Regions from separate parts of the Homo sapiens genome. Here region 2 is linked to region 1. The links come from fine-mapping of genetic effects on gene expression. Tissue or cell type: whole blood. Region 1 holds a variant in brackets; the other region holds the start of a gene. All regions are shown on one strand. Distances are from middle to middle.

Region 1 (8,105 bases):
GGCTTCAATATCTGCTTGGCGGTTCCCTTCTACTTCTTTTCTTTTCTTTCTGGTGACCCTGGCAGTGTAAAACTGCCACCTCTTTAGGTTTCTGTAGAGCCAAAAATAATCTCCTAATGTCTTCCTGATGTTTGATAGGTATTCCCTCGGAAGTTAGGAATTCCCTTTCTCTCCATATTGTTGCATGGGCATGGAGAGTTAGGTAAGCATACTTAGAGTCTTTATATATATTTACCCTTTTTCCTTCTCCTAATTCTAGTGTATAACGGCCCCTGCTTTTCCTAGGATGTCTCTCCCTAACAAAGGAGTGGGGCTTTCAGGCATAATTAGAAAGACATGTGAAAAGAGTAAAGTTCGCCAGTCACAACTTAGTGGCTGGGAGAAGTATATAGTGACTGCCTGTCCTAGGATCCCCTCAGATAGTGACAGATCTGGAGGACAGTTGTCCAGGACAGGAGAGTAAGACTGAGACAGCTGCGCCAGTGTCCAGGAGACAGTTAACCTCCTGGCCCTCAATGATCAAGCATACCCGGGGCTCTGTGAGGGTGATGGCGTGGGCTGGTGCTTGCCCCGGACACCCTCAGTCCTGCTGCTGTATCATCTGGTTAGTGGCTTCTGACTCAGAGGACCTTCGTCCCCTGGGGCAGTGGGCCTTCCAATGATTCCCTTGACATAAGGGGCATGGACGAGGGGGAGGCTTATTTCTATTCGGACAATCTTTTTTAAAGTGTCCTTGTAAACCATACTGGAAGCAATCCCTGTTAGGCATTCGATTTGCCCAGCCTTTCCCTGTTCCAGAGCCTTCAAAGTCCATTTGCCTGAAGACCATGACTAAAGTGGTGGCCTTTTTCTTATCCCGTTTATCCCGTTCTGCCTGCTCCTCCTGATCTTTATTATAAAAAACTGAGGTTGCCAAGTTCAGTAGGGTTTCTAAGTTTTGCTCCGGGCCTAAGGCGGACTTTTGAAGTTTTGTTCTAATGTCTGCAGCTGACTGAGTGATAAACTTATCCTTTAAGATTAGTTGGCCCTCAATAGAGTCATGCGACAGAGAGGTATGCTTTCTCAAAGCCTCCCTTAGTGTCTCCAGAAAGGCGGTAGGATTTTTCTTCCTTTTCCTGTGTTATAGTGGACATCATTGAATAATTCATAGTCTTCCTCCTAGTTTTCCTTAGCCTTCTTGCACGCAAGTTAGCAAATGTCTGCGGCACCAATCTCCATGTTCTGATTTTGCGTCCCAGTGAGGGTCTACACTGGGAACTGCCTCCTGGCCTGTGGAGAATTGTTCTCTTTCTTCTGTTGTCATCCTATCATTGACCTGACTGAGATACCAGAGATTGCCAAACTCTCTGGCTGCAGTTATGGTGGCACTTCTCTCTTTTGTGGTTAGCGTCTGATCTAGCAGCAACATTATATCTGTCTATGTCCGATAAAAGCATTGTTCTAACCCTTGTAAAACATCAATATAGCCATCAGGGTTATCTGATAATTTACCTAGGTCTATTTTAATTTGCTTCAAGTCTGACAGGGAAAAAGGTACATACACTCTGGGCCGAATTCTCCAGAATATATCTTAGGGGCGTTTTTGCCTTGTGGGGAACATGTCCCATCTGAAAAAAGAACATAGGGATGCCAGCACCTCTAGTCATTTTCCAATGAGCATTATCCCAGAGGACTAGAGCGTCCTCTGTGGTCCTAGTGCTTATTCCTTTCCAGGGTGTACAACTACCCATGGACCTCTGCTTATCGGATTAGTTACACTCACCAATGTAGCAGTCCTGCACCCCTTTTCCCACCTTTCTTGACCACAAAGAAAGGGGTCCGGGCTGCTGGATTCTAGTGGTCCTTTACCAGCATGCCCAATATTGCCTTTGCGCTCAAGGGTGAGTTCTAGAGCTGGGCTGGGTTCCTGAGTATTTTATAACAACCCAGCTGCCCCATCAAGATGCGTTCCCATAAACAACAGTTCTTATGCAAATTCTTTTCAGAGAGGGTGTAGGTAACCTTTTGAGTTAGGATTGAGGTAGAGTTTTTGCCCACTAGGGCCTTTGTCCTTTTCCCTTGTAGGAATACGCCCTAATTATCAATCTTAAACTTTTTGTTGCCCCGGATTAAGTCCTTGCCGGTATGAAATTTGAGAGATGGATCCTGTTTATCCCATGTGCCTTTTTCCGTGGGTTACTGGGTTAAGGATTTTTGATAGGAAGGCTATGTGTTGTCAGTGGTCTCAGTGTTTTCAGGCTACGCCCTTGTTTACACTGACAACAAGGTAGTATTGGAGTGTTATAGGGTCACAGAGAAGACCTTCAGTTATCAATTATAGGTTTTAAATTTACCCTGGCTTTTAAAGGAATAGGGTGCACTGTTTTTTCTTTACTACTTCTATCTCTCTTTTTCTCTCTCTCCCTCTCTTTTCTCTCTCTCTCTGTCTCTTCTCTCCTTGAGTTACTTAATTCGCTTTCATCCTGATCTATTATGTTGTCATAGACCCAGTTCCAGTTGTTAAAGTACTGGGTCATGAGTTTCAAGGCCCTGGCCAAGGAGCCAAGGCTTGGAGATTGTATTGCAGAGGGATAAGCTGGGTAAAAATCAGGGGAGGAGAGCATCTTACATGATGAGAGAGCAATCCTCCTAGCCATTTACAAACTTGGGGCCCTGGCAAGGGTGGTGGGGAATGGGTCCCACATAACTGCCCATGTTGAGAGCTGTATATCTAAACTGGGACACCAGGGACAAGATTCCCTGGGTTCATAGCCTAGGTACCTAAGGACACAGCATAGAACTTCCTTAGATCCCTTTGGAGATACAACTTGCTCTAATACTTGGGAGAGGAAATGAAGTCTGAACCATTAGTACCTAGGAGGCAGGGATCGGAGGAAGTAGATTCAGAAGTAAGGAGAATTTTGGGCTACACTTTCAAGAAAGTCATGGTCGGGACCCAGGAGGTATGGGTCAGAAGGAAAGGTAGGGGTGCATGCACGGGCGACTGTTGAGTAGAGACTTCGGCTGCGCCATGATCTCAACCAGCTAACGCCGGGAGTTCGGGACGACAGCTTTCTGCCTCTAGTCGGCCCTCGGCCTCCCCAGGAAAATTGAAAGCAGAAGCTGGTTCCAGGCAGACCAACGCTCCCAACCCAGAAGGGTTGGACGTTGTTAGAAAGCCCTTTCCCAGATAGCCTCACACCTGAGTCTTAAGTCTGGCAGCCACACTAATTATTTTTAACTGGCTGACAGGTGCCCGGTATTTTCCTCCAATTCTAAGGAAGGATAGGACAGAATAGCAAGTGAAAGTGGTCCAATATTACTCACCGCTTTTGAGGTCCCTTTGTGGTCACCAAAATGTTACTGGGGGGTCCTTGTTCTTAGAGCTCCTAAGATGGTGGTAGGCTGCTTCCAAGATGGTGGCAAGCCTCTTGTTCTCTGACCTCGGGTTCTTGACCTCACGGATTCCAAGGAATGGAATCTTGGGTCATGCGGTGAGTGTTACAGCTCTGTTCAGCTCGATTAGGATGAACCCCAGGCACTTAGCCTGTGCAGGAACAATGGTGAGCCTCTAGCCCGACTGG[G/C]AGTGGCAATGGGCGCCGCCTCGCTGGATCAGAAGTGCAGTGGACACCCTGCCAGATCGGAGGGGTAGAAGTCAACAGCGGGTCTGCGACGACGGTGATCAGCAGTGGTGGACGGTGAGTGAAAGCTCAGTTTGAACTGGAACAAACACGGACCAGAGAGTGTGCAGTTGCAAGATTTAATAGAGTGAAAACAGAGCTCCCATACAATGGGAGGGGACCCAAAGGGGGTTCCCTGCCTTTTTTTTCTTTTAGGTCCTTGAAGGATTACATGATGCCTGCCCACATTGGTGAGGGCAAGTCTTGTTTATTCAGTCTGCTGATTCAAATGGTAATGTCTTCCTGAAACATCTTCATGGATATACCCAGAAATGTTTTAGCAGCTATCTGGGCATCCCTTAACCCAGTCAAGTTGACATGTAAAATTAACCATCACCATGCCAAGTTAAAATATTTATAGATACTGCTAAATTGTATGCTATGTTAATCAGGATTCTTTCAGTACTGAGTGAAAGAAACCTAGTTCAAACTAGCTTAAGCAAAGAAAGGGAATATAGTAGCTCAAGTAAATGTAAATCTGAGTGATGGGTCTCTTCAGAGACTGCTGGATTCTACTATTAGAATGATGTCGTTAGACAGGCAGGATTTCCCTTTGGAAGTTCTAGACTTACCTTATTTTTATTTTTTTAATTAAAAAAATTTTTTTAAAGAGATGGGGTCTTACTCTGTTGCTCAAGCTGGAGTACAGTGGTGTGATCATGGCTCATTGCAGCCTCCAACTCTTGGGCTCAAGTGATCCTCCCATCTCAGTCTCTGGAATAACTGGGACCGCAGACATATGCCATCACATCAGGCTAATTTTTTTATTTTCTATATTTTGTAGAGGTGGGGGGGGGGTCTTACTATTTTGTCCAGGTTGGTCTCAAAACTCCTGGCCTCAAGTGATACTCCTTCCTTGGCCTCCCAAAGTGCTGGGATTACAGGCATGAGCCACTGCATTAGGCCTTGCCTTATCTTTAAAGAGCTCTTTATGTATTCTGGATATTAATCCTTCGGTGTTATATGTGTTTCGGGTATTTTCTCGTCACTTTTCTTAACAGTGTCTACTTTCTTTGTAATGCCTTTCAACCTCTTCCTCTTCACTGACTTCTTCCATGCATCTTGTGTGCATTATGAAGTCTCTGCTGAGGGTTGTCTGAGAAGTTTGCACATAATACAATTCCTTGCATTGTGGAAATTATTTTATATATAACCTTTTCTTATAATACCTAAATAAAACATAGTAAGATGATATAAATTGTGTAAATGGTGTGGCGATATAATCTTGACATTTATTACACTTGTGATTGGCACATAGTAAATTTGTCATCAAATTCTGGCTCAGCTGTTGAGAAATATTCTGGTCTTAATACTTAACCTATCTCCTCTACTGAAAACCTTGTGGTTTGACTTTCCCTGTTAGAGTTTGCAGAAAACAAAAAGAACGGTCTATCACCCATTACTACCACTTTTATAAGAAGTAATAGACAAGTTTATTATTCATAAGTAAAAAGACACTTTGTGTCAGTAAACATAGGGTGTGGTTCCATTGGCAGTGTTTGGGCCAACTCTTGTCATTGCTACACAGGCGTCAGTGGCTGGCATTGGTTCAGCTGAGGTGGCTCTAATTCTCCAAGTATTCCCAGGAAATAACTCACAAGTTGTGAAAGACCTGAAGTGCTCATTGTGTTTGTCCATTAAGAATGTCTTTAATACCCACACCATTTAAAGTTTCAATAAGTTGAGAAGGAGAAGCCACTTTGCCTTCCTTTGAGGGTAAGGAGAGATTAAAGCATTAAAAACAGTGAATAGGATGAGCCATTTCTTTTTCAAGAAGCACCCCTGTAGAGAAGGGAAGAGAGTGAGAAGGTGGTGGTTGATGGTCCAGTACAAGGTAGATAAGATCCCTTTGCTAAAACTCATGTATCAGTTTAAGGAAAGCAGTTTATCTTTGGAACTTTCAAAACTAATTTATAGTGGGTGGTGAAAATTTTCTTAAAATGATACTTTGGAGACTTTACCAAATGTGTAACAACTTTGACAGTACTTAAATTGCATATCTATCTGCATTTGTATTTTACAAAAATTCAGACTATATACCTAATTCTATTGAACCCTATTGAGAGTTGGTCCAGCTAATTTATCCTCGTTTCACTGTTATGGAACCTGAGCCTCAGAGAGGTTTAAGTAATTGGCCCGAAGTATAACCCATATTATTTCTAGCAGAGTCAAAGTTGCAGCCTCAATCCAACTTCAAATGTTATCTTCCTGGTCCAGTGATTTTAAAGTTAGCTTAATATATTTTTTTCTATAGGTAAAATATTTCAAGATCTCAAGTTAGTAGTAAATTGACTTCAGTATTTCTCACCTGTGTGAGAAGTGCCTTTTATTTTCTTTACTTCATATATAATCACACAGGAGATTTTATTTCCTTTTCCCAAGATGAGTGTGTATGCAAGTCACTAAGGGTGGCTTGCACTCCAGAAGTGGGAATTAAACTCTACTTCCTTGATGGAGTAGTCTTTACATAAATTATTTGGAATTCTTCTACATGGGAGATTTATCTCTTCTCTCCCGTTAATTTATATATTTAGTCATTTATATCTGCATGAACTCATTGTTACTTATTTTATACCTGTACTTTAGGTTACAATCCAATACAATGTAATTTATTTTGTTGCTCATATTGTTTTGGTCATAGGATGCCCTTTCAGAGTGGCTCCTATTGTCTCTTTTGCATGCCCCCATTGTTTGTTTTTTGAGCACGTTTTACTTTTTGGACCTACAGTGTGCTCCGACTCTTTGTATGTTTCCCACCTCAGCCTTAGAATCAGCCATTTTCATAAGAGTGCTGGTTTCTTTTACGGGAGAATGATAGTGAAAACCAAGATGTAAGGCCAGGCATGGTGGCTCACGCCTGTAATCTCAGCACTTTGGGAGGCCAAGTCGGGCAGATCACCTGAGGCCAGGAGTTTGAGACCAGCCTGGCCAACATGGCAAAAACATGTCTCTACTAAAAAAAAAATACAAAAAATTACCCAGGTGTGGTGGTGCGCCTATAATCCCAGCTACTCGGGAGGCTGAAGCAGGAGAATCGCTTGAACCTGGGAGGTGGAGGTTGCAGTGAGCTGAGATCACGCCACTGCACTCCATCCTGGGCAACACTGTCTCAAAAAAAAAAAACAGAAAGAAAGAGAGAAAACCAAGATCTGAGGACTGGGTGTGCTTGTTGCTACTGGACTGTCATTGATTTTAAGCCCTTTCAGCAGACAGATCTAGAACATATATTTATATATTATAACCCATGTATATATACATCTATAGTTGTTTCCGTGTCTAGCCATCTGTATCTATATTAAGCTAAACATGAATTCATACTGATGTCTGGACTCTACTCCAGAACACATGGTTCATTCTAGCCTTCCCTCTTTCCTTATATGTAACCTTCCTCTCCAACAGTAAGAAACCTGGCCCCCAGATCTGCCATCTGTTTATTTATTTGTTTGTTCTTAGTATTCATGTAGAGTGGTTTCAGAATTGTTAATCTCTACTCCTAGAAACAACTTTACCAACTAGACTATAGTGTTTATGTGCAGTTCTTTTTGTCTTTAGTCTTACAGTTTTCAGTCATAGCATCATTTATCAAAGTTATGTAGACCAGTGTCTTTTTTCTCTATCTCTCAGTGTGGTTATGACATATATTTGTAATTCAATTAGATTCTTTTGTCACAGTCTGCATGCTATCCTAGGATCACCCTTCCTTTTACCTCCTGGTTGATTTTTTTTTTTTAAATTGCGTACATTAAGGTTCACTCTTTCTGCTGTAAGGCATAATATTTAAATGGTCAGGATTAAACTTTATGTCTTTTTTTTCTTTTTAAGTGGAGGAGAACATCTTTTCTACTTTACAAGAGAAAGTTCCTTGGCTTCTGTAATGTAACATCGGTCTAGGTCTCTGACCTTTTAGTGACCATCTTTCTTAGTCTCTTACTGCTTCTGTTGATTCCTTTCCCTGATGGGTACCTTCCTTTCTGCATTTGTACCAGGAGCACATTACTTCACTTTTTCTAACTTTAAGACATGGTTTAATATATAGTAAGTCTAGGCACGCTTCAATGCTTGTGTTGTTCATTTTTCTAAATTATTTGTTACTCTTACCTGCCCTACTGATAGAGAGAGGAGACAGCCAAATGCTGCCCAGGTCATTGTGCACAGGGGGCTTGCCTAAACATGCCCATGGGGGCGAAAAATTCCGTGCCTTAACACGTGCACAGAAAGGGAAATAAATCAATGTGGAGTGGCTCAGAATAAGGGGCTGCCTGTGCACTGGAAGAATGGGGTGAAGCCACTGGGAATTCTCACCTTATGCAGTGGGGAGGAGCCTGGCCTCTTCAGCTCATGTGTGGTGGTCTGGTATTCAATCTGTGGGGTGGGAACCTGTTGGCAGGACCCCCTTTTTTAGCTGGGAGCTTTCCTTTAATAAATTCTGCTCTCCTCACCTTTCAA
Region 2 (8,105 bases), 30 kb before region 1:
AAAAATACAAAAAAAAATTAGCCAGGTGTGGTAGCGCACGCTTACAATCCCAGCTACTGGGGAGGCTGGGCAACAAGAATCGCTTGAACCCGGGAGGCAGAAGTTGCAGTAAGCTGAGATGGCGCCATTGTACTCTAGCCTGGGTGACAGAGCGAGACTCTGTCACAAACACAAATGTCCAACCAACTGGCCCATTAAAAAAAATGGCAGCGCCAGGTGAGGAGAGTAGTGGTTTCTTTTCTTTTCTTTTTTTTTTTTTTTTGAGACAGACTCCTCTGTCGCCCAGGATGGAGTGCAGTGGCATGATCTCGGATCACTGCAACTTCTGCCTCCAAGGTTCAAGCGATTCTCCTGCCTCAGCCTCCCAAGTAGCTGGAACTACAGACATGTGCCACCATGCCCGGCTAATTTTTTTATTTTTAGTAGAGACAAGGTTTCGCCATGTTGCCTAGGCTAGTCTCAAACTCCTGGGCTCAAGTAATCCACCCAGCTCGGCCTCCCAAAATGTTGGGATTATAGGCGTCAGCCACTGTGCCCAGCCAGTAATTTCAGTTAAATGCAAAGGGAAGCCTTAAGGTTATAGAAGTATTAAAAAAAATCAAAAGACCAATGATAATGACTATTGTGGCTTATTTTTACATAAAGGACATAGGCCTTGTGACAATTCACAGAACACTCTAGATTTTTCTCAAAGTAGCACAGACTTAAAGAAAAAAAAGCCAGATGCAATGGTGACCACCTGTAGTCCTCGCTGTTCAGGAGGCTGAGGCAGAAGGATGGCTTGAGCCCAGGAGTTTGAGGCTGTAGTGAGCATAATCATGCCTATAAATACCTACTGCACTCCAGCTTCTAAAAAAAGAATTTTTTTTTTTTTTTTTTTTTTTGAGACAGAGTCTCACTCTGTCACCCAGGCTGGAGTGCAGTGGTGCAATCTTGGCTCAGTGCAACCTCCACCTCCCGGGTTTAAGCGATTCTCCTGCCTCGGCCTCCCAAGTAGCTGGGAGCACTGGTGTGCACCACCACGCCCAGCTAATTTTTGTGTTTTTAGTAGAGATGGGGTTTCACCACGTTGGTCAGGCTTGTCTTGAATTCCTGACCTCATAATCCGCCTGCCTCTGCCTCCCAAAGTGCTGGGATTACAGATGTGAGCCGCCGCACATGGCCAAAGCATTTTTTTTTTGAAATAAAATTGTTAGATACGTGAAAAGTTGGTGTAGCAAATGCTAAGACTGAAAGAAAATGGAATGACAATTTGGTAGTGACCTCTAAAAATGCTAGTTTTAGTCGCTCGCTTATAGTAAGTTTTCAGGGCTGCATATCAGCAAGTTTTTTTAAATTAAAAAAAACACAGGTGCCAAGAGTAAAAAATTTTAATGACATAATTCTTCAAACATCTGCCATATTCACTCCAAGTGTGCTCTTTGGATACAACAACAGGTATTAAAGTATTCTCTTCCAAGCCTGCTAAAGTTATATCTGATTCATAACAAAATTTTACATAGGTATTTCAATGTATCAATATTTTGTGGCATTAATACAAAGAGAAATTTGACGTCCCAGAAAAATATTTACCTAGATAAATTCAGAACATTTGGTTCACACATGTAATCCCAGTATTCTGGGAGGCTCAGGCACGAGGATTGCTTGAGCCCAGGAGTTCGAGACCAGCCTAGGCAACATAGTGAGACCCTGCCTCTAGAAAAAAAAAAAAAAATTAGCCAGGAGTGGTGGGATTTCCCTATAGTCCCAGCTACTGGGAAGCTGAGGAGATCTCTTGAGCCCAGGAGGTCGAGGCTGCAGCCAGTGGTGACCGTACCACTGCACTTCAGAATGGGCAACAGACTGAGACCCTGTCTCAAAAAACAAACAAAAACAGAAAAACCCAAACCAAACCAAACCAAACCAAAAAACCCCTAACACTTGCAAATAGAAAGCTATGTGGTAATAACATCCATTAACTTGACACATCTTGTTTTGACATCATAGTGTCACTTACTGTTTCAATGAAATGGTAATGAAAGAATATAATAAAGTATTGCAAGTTGAATGCTTGAAGGTAATTGGAATAAAAAGTTTAAAAAAATTTTGCTTTTTCCGGGACTTCAATTTGAAGTAAATGAGTTAATTACTACATGGTAAGTGTCATAAGAGTACAATATTTATTAGCCTGCAGTAGGTACACGTGGACAGGAAGACTTTTCAGCGGTCCACTCCCCCAAGAGGGAATTTTCATTTCCGCGAGGTTACAAATGTTCTTCACTACAGGAAAACTCAACATAGAAGCTCATGTTCTGGGGACTCAAATAACAGTCGTAATACATGAAAACTGTAAAGGATATTCTGCATAAAGGGTCGTTAACATCTCACAGGCCAAATAGCCCTCTCAGAAACAACTAGGAAAGGAAAAAGTTCCCTTGGAGCTGTGCGTTTGCGTATGTCCGTGTGTGTATACAACTGAGGGAGAACGAATACGAGAGAGGGAACTCGAGTCTGAAGTACTGTGGTGTGGGCAGGGTGACATGTAATACTGAAGGAAAGAAGTCTGCTGGTGAAGTAAGAGCCACAGTTAATTTTCCGAAAGGAAGATGAGTAAGTGCACCTGACGTTATTCTACGAAAGCTGCTTCTGCAGGGTGGGAATGTTGGGAAGCAAGGTCTAGTGCGACAGAATTGAAAAGGTGGAGAGCAGGTGATTGCTGGATCCCTAATGCTCAGCAAGGGGGACGCATCCACATAACGTGAGAACGAACGAATGAATGAACGCTGCATAAAAGCAGCTTTGGCTTGGGGAAGGTAAGAGTCTGCAGAGAAGGTCTTGGGGAGAAAAAGCAAAGAAAACCGAGGGAAGAGGCCGAACCCTTAGTGTCAGGAGGAGGGGTGGCTGCGGGGTTAGTGAGGGCACTGACCAGAGAGAACTCGGTGCCGGGCCAGTTGACTCGGAAAGGGATGTCATCGCTGAGTTGAGGAAGGGCTCGGCCGCCGCCGGACGCCTCCAGGAGGCCGCAGAGGACCAGTAACACCGGCCCGCCCGGGACCAGACTCCGTACGCCGCCGCCTCCTTCCTCCATCCTCCGCCGCCGCTTTCTCCAGCCACCGCCACAACCTCCTCTGCTCCAGGAGGAGAGGAGGAGGAGGAGGAGGTGGAGGAGGAGGCGGCGGGACTATAAAGCGCCCGGGTATCACCGGCCCAACCGCCGCCACGTCTCCTTCCGGAGAGCCCGGCAACGCCGCCTCCGCCCCCTTGAGCCTCCTGTCACCGTTTCCGGGGCAGACGACATATCAACATCCGGGGGTCGCGGAGCCGTCCGCCTACGGGGGCCGGGACGTCGCCTGCGCGTCTCTCGTTTTCGGACGGCTGCAGCATCGCGGTGGGGATCGAAAGCGGGGGCTTCTGGGACGCAGCTCTGGAGACGCGGCCTCGGACCAGCCATTTCGGTGTAGAAGTGGCAGCACGGCAGGTCGGTGAGTCTCGGAGGCGGCAGCCGCTTCCTGAAGCCATTCCCGCTGCTCTCCAGTGGGCAGGCAGAGGTTTGACCCACACGGAGTGATAGCGGGAAGAAGACAGTGTGAACCGTGCGGGTGCGGGTCCTTAGATGAGAAAATTCGAAGTAGCGATGAGATGTGAGAAATGGCGGTGTTCCTGACTGACCTGCCTTCTTGCAGCTTTTCTTCTTTTTCTCCGCATTTGGCATTTGTACACTTCATTTTTCCCGCTTGAGGCTTATCTCCATCTCTTCTGCTGTGGACCGTGGCCATCTCGTTACTTAACAGCTTCTGACTAACGCAGGGCAGTTTGTTCAGCGACTGCAACTCTGTGTTAGGGGAAACCTGGGGTGAGGTAGCCCGCCATCTCCCCGTAGGTGAATACCGCAAGCCTCCGAATTTGGCGTGGTGGGCGACTCTCGTGGAATGGGCAGCTAGACATCACAACCCTACATTTTTACCCTCCATCTCTAGATTGAAGTGTTGGGGTGTTGTTTTATCAAGGAAGCTGGTAAGGTTCCTTATGTGAGGTTTAGCGCCAGATGAATGTGTGTGTTTATGAACTAAGTCACGTCTGACTGCATCCCCAAATTAGACAAAAAGTTTTGTTTTTCCCTCCCCCTCTTTAGAAAAAATGCCATTGTCTGTTTTGATCTCCAATATAATGGACATAGAGTGTTGGCTTTAGAGAAATTACCATTCCCTAAAGCTCGACAGTCTTGCTAGATCTGTTAAAGACTGGTCGCCCCCACTTCCTCAGATTTGAACCAAATCAAAAAGCAGGAAGGACAGTCCCATATTCTATCTTAAAAATTTTTTTTTAACATCAGGAATCCATAGTATCAAAGAAGATAACTTTCTTCAGAATTGTTATTCGCTAATTATATTCAGCACTTCTTATTAATGCTTAATGTGATCCAGACTCCTGGGATTTTTGTTGTTGTTGTTTGTTTTGAGACAAAGTCTCGCTCTGTCACCCAGGCTGGAGTGCAGAGGCATAATCTTGGCTCACTGCAACCTCCGCCTCTGGAGTTCAAGGGATTCTCCTTTTTCTCAGCCTTCCGAGTAGTTGGGATTACAGGCGCGCGCCGCTACACCCTAATTTTTGTATTTTTAGTAGAGGCAGGGTTTCACCACGTTGGCCAGGCTGGTCTCGAACTCCTGACCTCGGGTGATCCGCCCTCCTCGGCCTTCCAAAGTGCTGGGATTACAGGCCTGAGCCACTGTGCCTGGCCCCCCTGGGCTTGGTAAAATGCCAAATAAATGGGTTTCTGTCTTTGGTCACACAGTCTAGGCAGGGAGATTGTACAAACAAATAATTGCAAACTATTATAGTAGTAATAGTCAATTTTTTTTTTTTTTAGCATTTATTCTGTGCTAAGCACTAGTCTTAAGTCATGAAGGAAAAGAGATGTATTTGACGGAATAAAAATGAAAACTGTCTGTGAGGTCCTGTTTTAGCATTTAGGGCTATAGTGATTGAATCTGTGTTCAATAGAGCTGATGTTCAAGTAAGAGGGGAACTTAAATAAGTAAAATAATTTCTAGTATTGGTAAGTGCTGCAAAGAAACTAAGGTTATGTGAAAGACAATACCTGTAGGATGTGTTGCTTTTAGTACGTAAGTCAGAGGAGACTTCTGTGAGGAAGTGACATTTGAATTGTGACTTGAATGATGAAAAGAAGGGAGCCAGACAAATTTCTAGGCAGAGGCCCTGAGGCAGGAATGAGCTTGATGTGTTGGAGTGATAGAAAGAAGGCCAGTGTGGCTGGAGTGTAAGAGGAAAGTGGTAGAAGAAGTTTGAGAAGCAGAAAGAGGCCAGGGAGACAGCTCTGTAGGCAGGAGAGTGGACAGGACCCGATGTACATTTGTGAAGATCATTGTGGCTGCTGTGTGGAAAATTGATTGTAGGGGGTGTTGTGGGTTGAATTGTGTTCCCCAAAAAGACATGTTTAAGTCCTATCCCCTAGAACCTGTGAGTGTGAACTACTTGGGATAGGGTCTTTGCAAATATAATTCAAGTAAGGATGAGGTCATACTGAATCAAAGGGGGCCCTAATCTGGTGACTGGTATCTTTATAAGAAGAGGGAAATTTGGATACACATGGACACACAGGGAGAATGCCATGCCAGGAAGGAGGAGGCAGCAAGATTGCAGTATGTGTCTATAAGACAAGGAATGCTAAAGATTGCCAGTAATCACCACAAGCTAGGAAGAGGCAAGGAAGAATCCTTCTTTAGAGCTTTCAGAGAGAGAGAATAGCCCTGCTGACATCTTGATTTCTGACCTCTAGTTTCTAGAATTGTGAGACAATCAATTTATGCTGTCTAAGCTGCTCAGTTTGTGGTCATTTGTTACAGCAGCCTCAGGAAGGTAATAGAGGATGAAAACCAAAAAGTAGTTGAGACAAGTCTCAACCAGTTTAGAAGTTTATTTTGCCAAGGTTAAGGACGTGTCACAGACAGCCTCAGGAGGTCCTGACAGCATGTGCCCAAAGTGGTCGGGCTACACTTGGGTTTTACACATTTTAAGGAGCCACAGGACATCAATCAGTACAAGTCTTTTATGCTTTATTTATAGGTTGATTCTTAAACATTGAAAACTTATCAACTATTTACCATATTGTAATTATACAATCATCATTCGCTATAAAACTATTAAGTATGATTGCATCTGCAGAGAAAAAATGTAATTCTACCTCTGCCAATTAAGGTATCCTATTAGCTTCCTAATAATGGCACCATGTTTGCTAAAATAAACTCATTTTGCTCCTGAAGCTGTATTTCCAGCTCTCACACATGTAATTTAGACTAGTTGCTTTACAAGTCAGTTGCATACCTGTTTACTGAGATTTTTTTGTATCATGCCTGGGTTAGGTCTACTGCTTTATGTATTCCATGTCCTCATTTGTCATAGATTTTTTTCCCACCTTGTAGGGGTATAACTAATTTCAAGCAATTTTTTTCAGGAAGGATTAAACAGGTAATTTAATTTCCACAGACTTCATATGTCTGAAAATGCCTTTACCTTGCCTGCTCATTTAATGATAGCTTGGGAATAGACTTAGTCCACAATCATTTTGTTTTCTTCAAAACTCTGAAGACATTCTCTTGCTTTTTGTGTCTAGTGTATCTGATGACAAGTCTAATGCCAGTCTCTTTCTTTTGCAGGTATCATACTTTTTTCTCTGGAAGATTTTATTAGACTGTTTTCTTTATCATTGGTTCTGTGATATTTTATCAGTGTTTCTAGGTGGTGAATCTTTTTTCATTCATCCTTCTTGGCACTCTATGAATCCTATTTTTCACTTCTGGGAAATTTTCTTCAATTATTTCTTTAATTATGTTCTTGACATTTTCTCTGTTCTATTCAGAATTTAGATAGGTTCTTCCAAATACATTTAGATAGATTCTTCCAAATACAGAGGAAAAATATAAAAAGAAAAAATACATAATACGAAGGATCAATCCAAGAGGTCCATTTCCTTGATTTTCAGTTCTTTTCACTTTCTTTTTTCAGTGGTTTTTTCCCCACAGTTTCTAGTCATCTAGTTATTTTTAATGGATGCATTGTTCTCATGACATGAATTTCTTTGAGGATAACACTTATAACTTTTAAATATTTATGTCCCATTCCCGGAAATAGCTCTGCTTCTTTCAGGTCAGTTGTTTATTTTCATCCTTTCTGTCTGTTGTGCTTTTACTTCAAAAAAAAAAATTCTTGGCGGGGCATAGTGGCTCACACCGGTAATTCCAGCACTTTGAGAGATCACCTGAGGTCTGGAAGGTCAAGACCAGCCTGGCCAACATGGTGAAACCCTGTCTCTCCGAAAATAAAAAAATTAGCCGGAAGTCTTGGCAGGCTTCTGTAATCCCAGCTACTCAAGAGGCTGGGGCAGGAGAATCACTTAAACCTGGGAGGCGGAGGTTGCAGTGAGCCGAGATTGCGCCATTGCACTCCAGCCTGGATGACAAAAGTGAAACTTCATCTAAAAAAAAAAAAATTATTGAGCTCTTTTGTAAGTGAGCAGGGTACTAGCTGTTGGGTCTAACTTTAGGGTCCTTGAGTGAAGTGCAAGAAACGAGTTGCCTCTTTCCTCCTCTCCTTCCACCCTGTACCCAAATAAGGAATGCTTTGTTATGGAACATGAAGATGCTCAAAGGCTTCCAGGGTAGACTGTTAAATTAAAAAGAGCAATAACAACAAAATAGATGTGGTTTTAGCCAGAAACAAATACTGTTGCTGCCAGGCGTTTTGTGTGTAAAGGGCTGTGGTAAAAAGTTTGGCTTGCTGTTTCATATAAATATTATAATAATTCTGATTTTAGTCCTACGTCCTTCCTCTGCTTGTTTCTAAGATTGGTACCTCTCCAGGCTCTGCTGGCAAGAATGTCTTCTACATTGCTATAGCCTTCTCATGTATGCATGTGTGTGTGTTCTGGACTGCAGTTTTCTCTGCACTGGCTTAATCCTCAGCATAATCCTACCTGCTTTCTCTTCCAGAATGAATGAGTGCATTTCAGTGCGATTTTGTTAGGAAGCGGAGGAAAATGTATGTGCTTAGTTTGCCTTGCATAGAGTGAGTAATCCATTGTTTTTTTGTTTGTTTGTTTGTTTTTGAGA

Evidence for each region. PIP is the estimated chance that this variant, and not a neighbour inherited with it, causes the effect.
Region 2: it holds the start of ASB3, and the variant in region 1 is fine-mapped to the expression of ASB3 in whole blood (TOPMed, PIP above 0.99).

The regions. Positions count from the first base shown.
Region 1 is chr2:53,752,330-53,760,434 of GRCh38, reverse strand. All of the region lies in intron 2 of ASB3 (ankyrin repeat and SOCS box containing 3), which reads left to right. The region is part of intron 2 of GPR75-ASB3 (GPR75-ASB3 readthrough); the gene reads left to right. Among named protein-coding and RNA genes, the nearest start is that of CHAC2, 11 kb to the left of the region's middle. The variant G/C (reference allele first, on the strand shown) is at 3,564.
Region 2 is chr2:53,782,173-53,790,277 of GRCh38, reverse strand. It overlaps ASB3 (ankyrin repeat and SOCS box containing 3), which reads left to right and starts at 3,325. Exons shown (of 10, transcript NM_016115.5): 1 at 3,325-3,457. All of the region lies in intron 1 of GPR75-ASB3 (GPR75-ASB3 readthrough), which reads left to right. ERLEC1 (endoplasmic reticulum lectin 1) reads right to left here and starts at 3,234. Exons shown (of 14, transcript NM_015701.5): 1 at 2,906-3,234. The coding sequence starts at 3,067. RefSeq lists enhancers at 3,242-3,661, 3,177-3,835.